Linked DNA regions of Homo sapiens: region 2 is linked to region 1. A link means that fine-mapping ties the variant in region 1 to the expression of a gene that starts in the linked region. Tissue or cell type: fibroblasts. Region 1 holds a variant in brackets; the other region holds the start of a gene. All regions are shown on one strand. Distances are between the middles of the regions.

Region 1 (8,110 bases):
CTAATTTACTAAAGTTGCTTGTTTCCCCCAACTTCCACTCCATTATACATTTTTGGGATCTGGCTAAGGAAAAGTTGAGTTGGCGTATTTGGGTTCTGTTGGATGGGCTTATGTGGTTTGCAGTTACCTCTTTGTGTGGTTGTTATTTCTGTCAAGATATTACAAGCTAGTAAATGGTAGAATTAAAATTTAAGTCTGTGTGTTTCAAGATGTAAACCTTAACCTTATACTATACGACCTTTCATACCTTTGGTGCTCAATCCCCAGGGTTGAAAATTTTTTTTATTTATTTATTCATTTATTTATTTTTAATTGAAAAATAGCAATTTTATGTTTGTGGGATATAATGTGAAGTTTTGGTCTTTGTATACATTGTAGAGATTCAATCAAGCTAGCATGTCCATCACCTTACCAATTTATCATTTTTGTGTGTGTGGTGAGAATGTTAAAAATGTATCCTTTTAGCAATTTTGAAATACATAATACATTATTATTAACTGTGGTCATCATGCATGATAATAGATGACTAAAACTTATTCCTCCACTATTACTGAAACTTTGTACCTTTTGATCAACATCTGTCTTTCCCCATTCCTACTATATAGATACAGCATCCTACATCCCTGCTATAGATACAGTTCATAACATAACGTAACAATCTTTATGTTAGCCACATAGTAACCAGAAAGAAAAAAATTACAGCAGATACACAAATGAGAAAGAGAAAAGAACAAAACAAACAAAACTTAGCAACACAGAAAACCACCAAACCACAGAGGATAAAACAAGAGAGGAAAAAATGACAAATAAAAAAAAGGATCTACAAAACCACCAAAAAACAATTAACAAAAAGGTAGGAGTGAGCCCTAACTGATCAATAATAACCTTGTGGGTAAATGGATTAAATTATCTCATTAAAAGACAGAATGGCTAAAAAAGCAAACAAATTAAAAAACAAAACAAACAAACAAACAAAAAAACAAGACCCAACTATATGACTCACCTTACTGCTTACTGTTAAAGACAAACATAAACTGAAAGTGAAGGGATGAAAAAAGTTATTCCATGCAAACAGAAACCAAAAGCAAACAGGGGTAGCAACATATGCCTGATAAAATTGACTTTAAGTAAACAATTGTAAAAAGAGACAAAGAAGATTATTATATAATCATAAAGGATCAATTCAACACGAGAATATAATAATTATAAGTGTATATGCACCCAAACGGGAGCACCCATTATATAAAGCAAATATTAATAGAGCTAAAGAGAGAGAGGTAGACTGCAATACAATGATAGAATGGAACTTCACCCCACGTTCAACAATGGACAGATCATCTAGACAGAAATTCAAAGAAACACTGGAGGCTGGGAGCAGTGGCTCACACCTGTAATCCCAGCACTTTGGGAGGCCAAGGCGGACTGATCACAAGGTCAGGAGTTTGAGACCAGCGTGACCAACATGGTGAAACCTCATCTCTACTAAAAATACAAAAATTAGCTGGGTGTAGTGGCACGGGCCTGTAATCCCAGCTACTCAGGAGGCTGAGGCAGGAGAATTGCTTGAACCCAGGACGTGGAGGTTGCAGTGAGCCGAGATCATGCCACCACACTCCAGCCTGGGTGTCAGAGCAAGACTCTGTTTCCAAAGAAAAAGAAAAAAGAAAAAAAAAAGAAAAAAGAAAATAAACATTGGACTTAAACTGCACTTTATACCAAATGGACCTAACAGACATCTACAGAACATTTCATCCAGCAGCTGCAGAATACACATTCATCTCAACTACACATTGGACATTCTCCAGAACAGAGAGAATGTCAGGCTACATAACAAGTCTTAACAAATTTAAGAAGATAGAGAATTATATCAAGTATTTTTTTAGACTACAATGGCATAAAACTAGAAATCAAAAAGAAAAGCTTTGGAAACCTTACACATACATGGAAATTAAAAAACATGCTCCCAAATCTATTAATGGGCCAATGAATAAATTTAAAGAGAAATTTAAAAATTCTTTAAGATGAATGAGAATGGAGACACATCGTACCAAAAACTATGGAACACAGCTCTAAGAGGGAAGTTCATAGCAATAAATGCCTGTATCAAAAAAGAAAGATTTCTAACAAACAACCTAACCATGCACCTCAAGAAAATTTAAAAAATAAATAAATCCAAAATTGGTAGAAGAAAGGCAATAATAAAGCTCAGAGCAAATATAAATGAAATGGAGACTGAAAAAAAATTTAAAAGATCAACAAAATGAATAATTGGGTTTTAAAAATTGAACAAAATTAACAAACCTTTAGCTAGACTAAGAAAAAAGAGAAAAGGCTCAAATAAATGAGATTAAAAAAAGATATACAACTGATATCACAGAAACTTATATATATATACACATATATATCTGTATCAAATGCCTATGCTATATATACATATATAGATATGTAGATATGTACATATACATTTATGTGTTTATTTATTTATATATTTATTTATATATGTATATATGTATATATACACATATATATCTATATCAAATGCCTATGCTAGATATATATTTATACATATGTACATATATGTATATATATTTATATATAGCATAGGCATTTATATATGTAGGCATTTATATATAGTATAGGCATTATATATAGCACAGGCATTTGATTTTTTTAAAGGCAGATATTCTATCCTTAGCCCTGTGCCAGCATTTGACACTACTTTTCACCTCCATCTCTGGCTCTAAAACTTTATTGAGCTTTACTGAGCTTGCTGCTCATTGTTGCCCTGGCTGTGCACTACACTCTGTAAATTCGACTGCCTGCCTTTGCTAGACAAGATCTTTGCTCGTGCTCTTCTCTCAGTCTTAAATGGGTTTCACTACTCACGTTGGTACTGGTCTTTGCTAATCACTTCAGATTTGCCAAAAAGTACTGATATCAACAAAGACAACCTAAAACTCTGAAAACAAGTTTAAAAGACTCATCTATTAAAAGAGTTTTAAAGATTAGTTACAATACTTGAAAACTTGAAATGCTCCCAACTCTTAACACCTCCCATATGACAGAACTTTGAAAGAAGTATTCCCAATTATGACAGCAATCCTAAATATTTACCTGTGACTGACAATAAAGAGTTGTGATGGTGTAAGAAACTTTACTAAACTATCAGTAATTAAACATAGTTTTTGATGAATTGCGCTATTGTAAAAATGAATTCTTTTATACTCTTCACAAAAAAAGAATGAAAAATAATTGTCATGTGAAGAGGTAAAGGGTATGCAGGCAAAAAAATTAGAAAAAATATTAGAAAACACTGTTAGGTAATTAAGTAAAAATTGATGTTAGTTTTCTGAATGTGTCAGCTTTTAAAAATGTGTAATTAGTAGTAAGATATTTTATCATTCTAAAGAAAAATTTACTCTGTACCTGTTTACATTAATAATGTTACATATTCTGTTTCTCAAAGAGAGTTTTCAAAATTGCAATAGATTCTGACTCTGCAAAATTTAGATCAGTCCTTAGATAGGTGCTGTTTTATCCACACTGCAGAGAGAAAGAGATAAATAGAGGAATACTATGTAAATCACTTTTCCAAGGTTACGCAGCTAGGAAGAGGCTGAGCAGGGACATATTTAAACCAACCA[C/G]TATGACTCTAGATTCTGAGCTATTAACCAGGAATCCAAGACTTGTCAATTTTGGCTGTACATTCAGATCTCTAGGGCAGCTTAAAAATACCAATGCCTGGGCCCCATCCCTGACCAATGAAATCATAATCTCTTGGGATCTGAACCTTGGTATTTTGTTAAAGCTCCCTAGATGATTCTAATGTTTAGCCAAGTGTGAGACTCACTGCATTAAACCCATCTTATCAACAAAAGGTTTTGGCTTTTGTGATGGAACTTTAAACATTTTTAAGGCAGTTATGCTATATGAGCAATCTGACTGCAGGAAGCTGTGCCAACAAAATTTTCAAGGAATTTGTAATATCTTCCCTGGTTTGCGTCCCTATGGCCCTCTAATCCTCACAGCTGGCATTACTTAGTGTCCATATGCAAGCGCAGTTCCATCCAGGTTATGGGACCAACATTGTTCTCAGAAGCCTAAAGAAACAGAAATCTTTGTCGTTAGTCACATAGCATCCATTATCTGTAGCCAATCCACTTTTCAACTTCTTCCCTAGTAGTCTGTAATCACATTTAGTAATTATTTAGTTTTACACTTGCTTCCACTTGACCAACTTACCACAATTGTTGCTTACTATTTACTTTTTCGATATTACCTTTAATATTCATCAAATTATTTCATATATCATCTTTATGTCATTTTATTTCCTGGATTCTTTATACAAATACGCAAGTGTATATCTCACAAAATAGTTTATCTTCAGTGTATGTGTTGTTTCTGTTGAATTATCTTGGAAATCAAAGATTAGAGTTCATTTTAAATTGGAAAGTAAAGATGAATATTTTAAATATGTGATGAAAAGCTAGTAAAAATATTGGAAAATGATTAGGAAGAAATATGTCTTAACTTACAAAATATATATTTTTTTCATTTACAGGTACAAGGGATTGCTCCTTGCTAGGTACATTTTTCCCTCTCTACTCTTTGCCACAGTCAGCGCTATGCTAACCATCTTTTTTGCTTTAGATGTGTAGACGCGATTATGTTATACTATTTACAATATCCTACATAAAAAAGGAGGTGAAAAATTAAAAAAAAGAAAAAGGTTTCAACCTTTTTTTTTCTTCTCAGTAGTATTGAAAAACATGAATGCACAATCTTCTTTGTGTCCTTATCAACAGCATAATGCGGAACACACATTAGGATTTCAAAAGATGTAGCTGAACTTGCCACAGTGGTCTGTGATCTTTTCTGTCACCTGGCCCAGGCAGAGAAACTTCTTGCTTCATGTCAGGAGCACATGTGGCATCACTGGAGACATTCATGATAATTCTAGGGTGTGAATTGATATTTGCCAGGGCATCATATTACTGCTGAGCTAGTACCTATTTACTTCTCTTTGCTTTTCTACTTGGTTTTGATCTCTATTTGATACATTTCTTTCATTCTTTCATATTTCATATACACACAACACTGGGTCATTAGTCTTAAAAACCATGTACTTGAAATTCTTGCCAACTTTGATACAGGTATACCACTAATGTGCTTCAGCACTCAGAGTACAACAAACAAAGAGGGAAAGAAAACTCAGGAGCGTTATGCTTATTGAGCTCCTTGTCTTTGGAAGAAAACACCAGGAGGGGGGATAGAAGATTTACTTGCAATACCAGACACATGACAAGTATTTATTTTATTGATTATGAATTATATTATAGCTGGCCTTGTTGGTAACCAATTGAATTAACATTAAAGAGAGAAAAGTTGATGGCAAGTATGACTTTCAGGGCGAGATATTTACTTTGTTCTAACTCTAAAGAATACTACAAAAAGTATAAGTGTGAAAGAATAGTTATTTGGCCATGTTATTTTGTGTAATTCGTTTGGTCAACTGAGTGATATGAGCTGTGTGACATTTATTAGCATCACTTTAATGAAATCAGAGGAAAATTTCTATCTTTTGTTTACTCTTTTTCTTGACATTTAATATAACCTTAATAAAATATAACATTAAAATGTTATTTTAGTTTTCATTATTCCTGGAGTCCCAGAAGAACAGATAACTAAAAGAATGAAAGAAATGTATCAAATAGAGATCAAAACCAAGTAGAAAAGCAAAGAGAAGTAAATAGGTACTAGCTCAGCAGTAATATGATGCCCTGGCAAATATCAATTCACACCCTAGAATTATCATGAATGTCTCCAGTGATGCCACATGTGCTCCTGACATGAAGCAAGAAGTTTCTCTGCCTGGGCCAGATGACAGGAAAGATCACAGACCACTGTGGCAAGTTCAGCTACATCTTTTGAAATCCTAATATGTGTTCAGCATAATGCTGTTGATAAGGACACAAAGTACCTCTGGAGAAGTGGGCTGGTTCTCAGGGCAGAGCAGGCTGGTGAGGCGGTTACTGATCATGGAACAGAGGATGATTCAAAAGAGAGATTCTGACATTAAAAGCCAATATGTAGTCTAACCAGCTTCTTTGCAACTGGCTAGAAAGGGGAACAGGATTCAGTTAGAAGGCAAAATGTCAGAGAAAGCATGAAAACCAACCAGAGGACAAGTATGAAAGCAGAAGGATGAACATGGGGTACGTGCAGATTCCTGGGGCCCCTTGGGTCCAACTGTGTCAGGAACCTGCCTATTCAGCTGTGAAACAGAACACTGAAGGGAGCCCAGTGAGCTTGAACTTCATGTCTGTGGAACTGCTTCTTCTTATCACAGCATTTTCTAGATTAGAAAACGGCAATTCAGGGAGGTTTGTTTATTGGTCAGATCACACGGCTAGTTAATGGGAATTCTAGTATTCTAACTTAAGTCTCCAGATTTTCTCCTCAGATTTCTCTGTGATTTGCACATGTCTGTTGTCTCAGTCTTAAGTCTTACTCTTCTTATGCCCCCACACTGACCTCAGACTTATTCTAAAAACCAGGACTGATCACAGTAATTCATAATTTAAAACAATTTATGGTTTCCCATAATGAAGTTTAAATTTCTTCACATAGCCCACAAAGTCTTCTGATGATCTGGCTTTTGGTACCTGTGCAGCCTCCCTTCCTATGCATGCCCCAGCTTGTCCTCTGTGATCAAGGTCTCCATCTCTTTCATCTCTAGTACAGCACCCTGCTTGTTAATAAGGTCATGAAAAATATGTGGCTATATCTACTACTGCACTTGTGGTATTGAAGATAGACATTACTTGGATGATATTCACTCATCTGAATATTATCTTTCCTTTACATCACAACCTCCAAGCACTTTGTGTAGATTATCAAAGCCTCACAAAATCCTATGAAGGTGCATAGACATCCAACAAATAACTACTTAAATGAGTAAATAAAGAAGCGTAAACTTTATGTTCATTTTTTCTATGTATAATATTGTCTCATCGGAGAACATTCATCCTCAAAACTAAGGACTTCAAGTGAGAGTTAATCTGTCAGTAATAAATACATTTTCATCTGGAGGGTTGTACCCCAAATACTCTACTTTGAACATAATTCCTGTAAGATGCATTTTTCTCAAGGCAGATTATCAGCTGCTTATATTTTCCCAGGACAAAAGTGCTCTTAAGAGCCTATCTTAATTGAGCAATTGATTAATTAGCACTTTTCTACTTTCACCAGGGAGTGAGAATTTAGAGGGTATTACTGTGCTAATAAGCTCACACCTTTCCTATTTTAAACTGTTTTCAATTTTGGGAATACAAATCCCTAAGACAAGAAAAATAAATTTGAAATCTTTTCATCCATGCAAAATGCAAAGTAGGTCACCCCACCTGTTTCTACTTGACTAGCACATTTGCTGAGGAGCAAGACATTTTCCTCTCATGTTTCTGTTTCAAATCTACCACGTGTTTGTTGGGGGAATTTAATATCATAATATATAAAGTAGCAAAGAGCACCAAGTCACAGACAGATTAAAAAAGGGTTAAAAGTTCTATCTTAGTCCATTTTGCGCTGCTATGACAGAACACCTGAGATTCTAATTTATAATGAACAGGAAATTACTGGCTCACAGTTCTGCAAGCTGGCAAGTCTAAAGTGTAAGGTAAGGCACTTGCAGTTTTGGTGTCTAGAGAGGCTGTTCCCCTCTTCCGAGAAGGCACCTTGCACATGAATTCCCACATGGCAGAAAGTAGAAAGGTAAGAGAGTCCAGTCCTGAAAGCCCTTCTCTGCCCTCATGTCCTAGGCACCTCCCATTAAAACCTACTTCCCCACACTGTTGCATTGGGTCTTAAGTTTCCAACACATGAATTTGGGGGGGCACATATAAGCTAAAGCAAGGCCCCAGTCTCTTTTCCTTGTTTGATAATTCTCTTTTAACCTTCCTTATTTGACAATTCTCAAATGTATGTATGCTCATTAATAAACAATAACCAATTGTTGTAATCTCTATTATGATTTTTAAAAATTTGTTCTAGATATCACTCTTCAAGATAACCACTCTCTAGGAGAGCCCTGACTAGGGGAATGTTATGTTCA
Region 2 (8,110 bases), 630 kb before region 1:
AGAAGTTTATGTATAGAAGGATCTATTTACATTTGTGTAAAATGAGAATTGTATTATACAATACAACTGAGGTGATGGCCAATCCATGGGCAGAATATTATCATAAGCTTCTGATGATCTTTCAACCTTCTTTCATGAGTGAGCCTAGTTCATATGACAGTCGTTCTTAGGGCCACTTGACAGTCTGAAAATTATTGTGGACCCCAAGGAGTTTTTGTTATATAGGTTATTTCTTTCAATAGTCAACCTATGAATTACAACAGAAATCTTTAAAATATTTATTAATTCATTTAAATAACTATAGTAAACCTACTGCACATTAAAGTAACATTATTTTCCAAAGAAATGTTTTACATTTTTGTTAATCTCTTTAATGTCTGGCTTAATAAAAGACAGTTGAATTCTCATATCATGTCTGTTTTCAATCTGTTGCAATTTATTTTGTTTGAAGTATATCTTCAAACAAAGGAAAATCCAATTTTTCACAGATATGTAGTTGGAAAATGAAGAAACATTTCAATAATCTTTTCAAACAATTCTGGATATTCTTCTTTAACGTGACACCATAACTCAACAAATGGTAGTTTCTTAAACCTTATAATTGCAGTATGGAATATGAAACCATATCAGTTAACTTTTCATACTGTGTTACATTAAAACCCGTTCGTCTATTTTGCATTTTGAATGGATCCTTATGCGTGATTTTAGATCATGATGCATTATTAGTCATTTGGAAAATACTTGTTCATTGAGCTATGCAGTTCTTCCAAATGTTGATATATGTCATTGTACGATATCTAAAACCACATTCATTTAAATGATCACGATCTTACTAGGAAAGACTTTAAGTACTGGGAAACTGTCAAGCTCATGGTGACAAAAACAAGTTTTAAAAATTCTAATTTTTTACTCAAAAGTTCAAGTTTTTCACTGGAAATAAATATTGCTGTTTGTTTGCCTTGAAATGACAGGCTGACTTCATTCATTTGTTAAAAAATTTTTTTAAAAAAGTGTTTGCTAAGTATCCAAGTCTGAGTAACCATAGTTTGTCTGTCAGTTGTTCTTTCAAGTAAAAATATGTCACATAAAAAAGCAGGTAGTTTAGCTCACAAATCAATTACATAAATGTCTTCGTTCAGGATAAACAACTGCACTTTAGTATGCCACAGAAGAGCTTTATTTGTGCCTCCCAGTTTGCCATACGGAATATTAAAAAGACATAGTCAAGAGTTGAAATTTAATAAAATAAGTATTTTTTACTGCTTCATCAAAGACATTCTTAAGCGAAACTCATATTTGGGGCAGTAAAAAATACAATAACTACCAGGATAGTTGGGTGCCACTGCTTTGAACATGCTAAGGTGCTAGCAGGTTTACCCACCATTGCTTTCGTATCATCAGTGCAAATGTCAACACAGTCAAAGAAGGCAAATTATGTCTTAGAATTAATATGAAACTAGCTTTGTCCTTGCAGACCTCCCCTGAAAGGATCTCAGAAACCCCCATGGGTCTACGAACCCCAGTTTGATGACTGCTGCCTTAAAACATAGGTTTCAACCAGTAGTTCTCCTAAATAGACTTAAATTCACTCTTGGTTTTATAATAGTTTTTGGCTTTTTCCTCCAATTGCATATTTAAGAATTGCCTGGTTTAAAAGTAAATGCAGATATAAATATGTAAATATCTTGCAAACACTTGAATATGTTATACTATCCAATCCTCACAAAACATCTGTAAGTCAACTATAATTTATTCCATTTTTATATTTGAAAAAAGCCACTGATGCTCAAAGAGGTTTTGTCCTACAGCAAATAATTTTCAGAGTCTAGAATTAAATATAAGCCTGTTTGGCTAAATAACATATGTTCTATCTAATATGGCACATTACCCAAGTCTCTCAAAACACTGAAGATAACTTACATATATATATAAATATAAATATATACAATGCCACTGGTTTTATCGGTGGCTTGTTTTTTTAGAAGACAGAGTATACTGATATATGCAAATCCTGATGTTCAAAACACAGATATTTTGATGAATTTTATGAAATTCACAGAGTCCTTACAGAACTTTCCTACAGACTCAGGTCTGTCATTAATTGCCTGAATTAATGATGTCTCTCTAACATCATTAGCACTCAGTTTCTTCCTAATGGCAATTTTAAATCAATACCCCAATCACTGGTTCATTTGAATTCCCAATCAACCCTGTGAAATGCATGGGGGTAGATAGTGTTGCCCCAATGTACCAAAGAGGGAAGTGATCCTCATATACATGCAGCATAAACTAAAATTGCATTGGTCAAGAATACCAAGACTTTTTGTAAATAAGAGCAGCAGCTTTTCAGTCTAGTTGTCTCCATCTGTCTGCCTCTTTCTACCCTGGTCACTAGCCCTGTCCTCCCTTGGCTTCATTGGTCCTACTCTGTTGCCCTTCTTCTCTGGTGTTCATCCCTTTCTTTTGCAGGGTCCTCTTCCTTCATCCATGTCTAAGACATTGGTGTCTGCCATGTCCCATCCTAAGTCTTCTCTTCCTGGCTGCCTTACTCCTCCCCCATGCTTGCCAGACACCTGAATGTATCCTTCCAGCTCCTGTCTACCCTCCTAGGAACTTTCCTTTTGGCTGCCTAAATGGCAGGGCACTCAGATGTCACAGAGGCACCCCCAACTCCACAAGTTTAAGACAGAACTCATTACATTCCTCCTAAAACTGCTCCTCTCTGTGTGTTTCTCTTGGCTAGTGGCACCATCCCTGCCTTAGCGCACCAGCCAGAAAACTGGGAGTCAGTCTAGACTCTCTTCTCTCCATTACCCTCTATGTCCAATCAATCACTAAGCCTTGTCTATTCTATTTCCTAAATATCTCTAGAGCTGTCCTAACCTCCCAAACAGCATTTCTGCTGCCTTGGTTCAGACCTAATTTTTCCTCTGGAAATAACCTCACTGTGATCTCTCTTCTATTTGTCTTGCACAGTGAAACCAGAGGAAACCTTCTAAAACACATTATCTAATAATACTTACAAACCTTAGAATCTGTCCTAGCTTAACACCTTTAACAGTTTCCCAACTACTCACCACCTCCAGGCAAGTTCTGGCTCCTTACACCCAGAGAGCCTTGTGTGGCTTGGCCTTGCTTACTTCACCTGCAGTCTAGCCGCACCTAGTCTCCTAGTTTCCAGGACACACCATGTACTTTGACACTTTCCTAACCTCTTCACTTGCTTCTGTTTGTGGAATGCCCTCCCCCCTCCACCACATCCTTGTTGGCCTTGTATTTCTTCCTTGTCTTTCAGAACTCTACACTGAAATCTCTACCAAGAGAAGCTTCTGAAGGGGAGTTAGCTGTTTCCTTTTCCATGCTTCCACAGGACCAGGTACCTGCACTTATTATAGTGCTAATCACATTTTCATTTATGCCTCTGTCTCCTCACCAGGCGGTGAGTTCCTTAAAGGCAGCACCATCACCTCTAAATCTCAGCACATAAGACATACCTGGTACACAGCAGGGACTTCGTAAGCTTTGTTAATGAATGACCCAGGGATCTGCTCTAGATCGTATCTCCTAAGTGGAGATACAATGAGGACTTTTCTCACCTCATTGTCTCATCTGCAAAAAATATGCTTGCACAGTGATCTGAAATGTCCTTTTCAGTGTTTAAAAATTTTACAAAACTATTTTATGTCGTGTAAACGGTTTTATAAATCCATTTCCTGCAGTGTTTTCATCTAGGAACCACAAAACTTTAGGAGCTGCATTGGTCCACCCTCTGTGACCAACTGTTTAGCAAAAAAGATCATAGTTCTTAATATGACCGGGATAAGGCTGATTTTCATCCTACCTACCTTAATTTCATTGTGGCAATAACAGAACTAGTGTTTTCAATACTGACACTATATCTTAATAAATAATTATATATTATTAGAACTTATATAAAACCAGGTTTGCTGGAAATCAGGTTCTCAGTTGCAAAAATGAGATCACCAAATCATTCGGTACTTTTTTTTTCTTGGTTTTCCTAAGCCCAGGCCAGGTTGCTAATTAGGTAACTTTTTATCATAATTACCTAGTCAGCCTTAATGGCTTCACACACTCTGCTCCGTTTCACTGGTCCTGTAGGGCCGCTTTTTCAATTGTTAAAACAGCTGCTGAGTTTCAAATCGGAGGAGGCTCGGTCTGCGCCGAGGGGGAAGCGCTCCCTGAGTGAAGGCTGTGATAGGCAGGCGTTCGGGTGAAAAGTGGGACATGAATGCACAGTTTGCACACTCTGCTTTCCGCCTCCAACCACCAACCTTCTGGATTTAACACGTCCCCCTCCCTGCCCCCAGATCAACCCCAGAGTTTCCCTCTATTGTGCACCCCGGTCTGCTTGACAGTGTGATGGTCCCGCGTGCGCGTCTCCTGGGTTTTGCAGCTTTGTCGGGGGCTCGGTGGGCCTCCTTCATTCTCCCCGAGTGGCGCTAAGGTTAGGACAGCAGCGTGTCCCTCGCGATGCCGCCCGCGAGGGTCCTGTTTGGGGAGCGCTGGGTCGCTGAGCAGGGTGGTGTGTGTGTGAGAGAAAGAGAGGGAGGGAGGGCTACAGGGAGAGAGAAAAGGAGGGAGAGGGTGTCTGTGTGTGAGTGTGTGTATGTGTATGAGTGTGTGTGTGTGTGTGTGTGTGTGCGTGCGCGCTGGCGCGCAGCGGGAGGGAGAGAAGGAGGGACGGAGGGGGAGGCAACGGGCAGAGGAGGGAGGGGGCGGGCGGGCAGCGGTGAGGCGGGAGGGGTTAGGGCTGGGAGGGGAAGAGACTCCGGGCTTCAGCAGTGACACTCGGGAGCGAACACACACTCCCCACTTCCAGCCGCGAGAGAGTGGAGCTAACTGAGCAGCGCACCCGCCACGGCCGCTGCCGCCCCGTGCGCCCGGCTCTCCCAGCACCCCGCGCGGCGCTCCAGCCAGGCGCCTGTGCGACTAGCGGCGGCCGGCGAAGCCCGCGCCAGCCCCGCGGGTCGCTGCGGCATCCTCCCGCCGCCCAGCCCCCGCACGCTCCCTGCAGTTTAAAAGGACCTCCCGCCGCTTCTCGGCGCTGCCCCGGGATTCCCCAGCCCCGCGCGGCTCCCTACTCCACTTCGCAGCAACTTCGGCGACCGCGCGCCGCCCGCCCTCGCCCGCCTTTGAAGTTTGCTGTGCCGACCGCAAAGTTGGGACACTTCAGCGGATTGAATTTTTCTCTTTTATCTGCCTCCGTCCCCGCCCTCCAGGCTTCTCGTTCCTGGATATTGGTGCTTAGCATCTTGGCAGGGTCCGGGGACGTGGACTATTTCGCACACCACACCACGGGGAGGGATTTTTTTCTATTTTCCCTACGAAAAACAGATCTTTTTAAGGTAAGTGGGGAGAGGAAAGCAATGCCCCAGAGACCCGACGCCTTAGCCCGCCACCCTGAGACCTAGCACAAGGAGCGTTCACGCCCGAAGGGTCATCCGAGATGGGGGCTCGAGGCACGCGCCCCCAAATCTTCAAGGCCCAAGAAGCTTCTCAAGGGCGCCCTATCCGTAGGAGCTGAGGGCATGAGGGGCAGGAGCAGGTTTCCCTCGTTTTTTTTTTTTTATTGTTGTTGTTGTTTGTTTGTTTGTTTGTTTTTAATTTAGCTGCTTTCGAAGCTGGGCGGCCCGGAGAGATGTGAGGAGGTGGACAGACAGCGCAAGGGCGGGGAAGACCTGGGACCCGGGAGCTCGGGGTGCAGTGGGGTCTGGGGAGCCGCGGAGCCTTTATCCCGGACTTAGCCTGGACACTTACTTTGCCCGCCTGCCAAGAGGGCTGTTGCCTCCCTTTCCAGGTTCATGCCCTCCGCCCGCCGCTAGGGAAAGTCTGCGGGACTGGGGTTTTGCAGAGGGCGTCTGCGTGTAGGGCGAAAAGCTAGAGGTCCAGGCAGCGCACGAGTTCTTGGTGGGCGTCTGGGAGCTGCGCAGCCGGGGCCGGGAGTTCGGTTGGCCCGACCCCCAACCGCTCTGGCTCCTCATTTGTCCTCTGCGTGGTAGGCGAGCATCGTTATAGAAACTTCCTTGGGCTGAGCGAGGTGGCCTGGGACCGGCTCATACTTTCTTCCGGAGAGCAGAGCGGCCACCGAGGTGACGCCCCCTACGGCCCCAGCCAGGAGACTCGGCTTCGTGCCCTCGTCCTGTCTGTGCGTGAGTTGGGGTTCGCTCTCACCCGCGCTACCTTTCTAACTGAGCGGAGTCGCCGCGGCCCCGATAACCTAGGAGTCCGAACGAGTGATTGCAGGTCCCAGCTGTTTTCTTGGAGGCACTTTGCAAACTGCTGAATTTGGAGTGCGGTTTCGTTGCATTGTGCGCTCTCGGTTCACCTTTCTGCCCGCACCCTATCCCAGGCCCAGGCGTGAGAGCTCCCGGCAGTTCCCCGGACCCGCCCCGCATCAGCTCCTCGGAGTTTGCCGCGGGCACCTCTACGCTGTCTCTGAGCTGTCCCTCCGGCCAAGTTGCGGTTCCCCTCCTGGCCCCCTTCGGGGCGCTGTCCATTTCTTGCTCTTGGGTACGGGTGGCTCCCTAAAACCAAGACCTTGAGCGGGAAATGAACCTGAGTGTATGTCTGGGTTTTGTTGTTGTTGTTATGTTTTTTCCTTCTTTTCTTTAAATTTATTTACAGAGTTCTTTTTAGCAACTTTGTTGGGTTGATAAATTTGCTTCTCATCTGTCGATCCCGCTAAATCACAAAGAAGAGTTTATTTTTTCATTTAGTTGCTGCTTTCCCCAAACACACTACCCTCTCTTTCCCCCCTCCACCCCTCCTCCTGCTGCCTCGCTTCCTGAACCCTTTTTCTTTTCTGACGGAGGGAATCTCCGCACCTCCTCCTCTCCTCCTCCCACCCGGTCCCTGAGCGCCTGTGAGAACCAGGGGAGTCATCAATGGAAATAAATAGGACTCCGCTCCATTCTCCGCCCCCTTCAAACAAGTAAAATCCTCCCTGGGTTCGGAGAAGTAGAGATAAAACATCCCTCCCAAGGGAGCGGTTGCAGGGGATTTGATGGGATTGAATTGTTTTATTATCTTGAAAGAAGTGATGGATGGATCCGAGAGGGAATATGTATATAAAGCAGAGTGTAGTGAGGGCGATCGGTATGATTATTCATTATTGTTTGTTAAGAGTGATAATAAGGCCGCAACCTTCGCTCAGACTGTGTTTATACTGGGGTTTGAGTTTATGTCAGTCTCTTATTACAGTGGTTTCAGAAAGTGAAAACACCAAAACCGTATTAATTCTTCAGTCATTCTGCATATGGGATTAATCAAATGTCAAAAAAGATACTGTCGTTTTACCACAGTTTTAATCTATGATCTTTTAGAAGGTTGCACTCTTATAAAATGTCATTTGCCTCCATCTGTCTTCTTAAAGTTTAAAAAACTTGGCAACATAATTAATTATGGTCCCAATTCCCATTTTCAATCTAAACCTATATTCAGGATTATATTAAAATACCCCATCATTTATTCCTCAGAAGTGACTCTTATGAGTTTAAACTCTTGGAGGGGAGAGAGGGACAACTGGGAATGAGGGGCCTAGGAGTTAGATAAATTAGTACTATTTCAGATTTCTCTAAAAATTCCTTTACTTCTTCCTTTAGAGAAAGAAATTACAAGGTCCTTCTCTGCACAGTTCATCACTTCAGTGAATGCCCTTAATCTTTACCACACACTTGAAACATAACAGCTTGCAGCCTTGTCTGCATTATTGCTTTCATTTTTGTGTCAGGACATTTTATTCATTAAACCTGTATGTCAAAGACTTAGGCTTAGTGTGGCAGTAACACTCTGTTTTAATTAGTAACTATCATAAAAAAGAAGCTAGAACTCTGTAATAGGCCTAAATTGCTATGAATTATGTTTGGTTTAAATTACGCATTTATTTCAGCAGAAATGAAACCATGAATATAAAACATCTTTTAATCACTTGCAGATACAGCTTTTATCTCTTAGGATGTAACAAAATATGTAATTGAAAAATATCCTTCTAAGGACAAGAGAAGCCCCCACCCTCAGCTTATTTGTCCTGGGTCTGTTTAACATTCATATGGTGAAGTATGAATGTTAAAGAGTAAAGACTATTGTCACA

Alleles and levels. Alleles are on the strand shown, and positions count from the first base shown. SD is a standard deviation of normalised expression in the study named.
For the expression in fibroblasts of the gene that starts at base 4,824 in region 2, allele C in region 1 goes with a higher level than allele G (small effect, 0.16 SD a copy in GTEx).

Evidence for each region. PIP is the estimated chance that this variant, and not a neighbour inherited with it, causes the effect.
Region 2: it holds the start of NDNF, and the variant in region 1 is fine-mapped to the expression of NDNF in fibroblasts (GTEx, PIP 0.90).

Annotation. Positions count from the first base shown.
Region 1 is chr4:120,439,058-120,447,167 of GRCh38, reverse strand. No RefSeq gene overlaps it. Among named protein-coding and RNA genes, the nearest start is that of MAD2L1-DT, 380 kb to the right of the region's middle. The variant C/G (reference allele first, on the strand shown) is at 3,645.
Region 2 is chr4:121,069,249-121,077,358 of GRCh38, reverse strand. It overlaps NDNF (neuron derived neurotrophic factor), which reads left to right and starts at 4,824. Exons shown (of 4, transcript NM_024574.4): 1 at 4,824-5,366. It overlaps NDNF-AS1 (NDNF antisense RNA 1), which reads right to left and starts at 5,997. Exons shown (of 3, transcript NR_187407.1): 1 at 5,779-5,997; 2 at 3,495-3,609.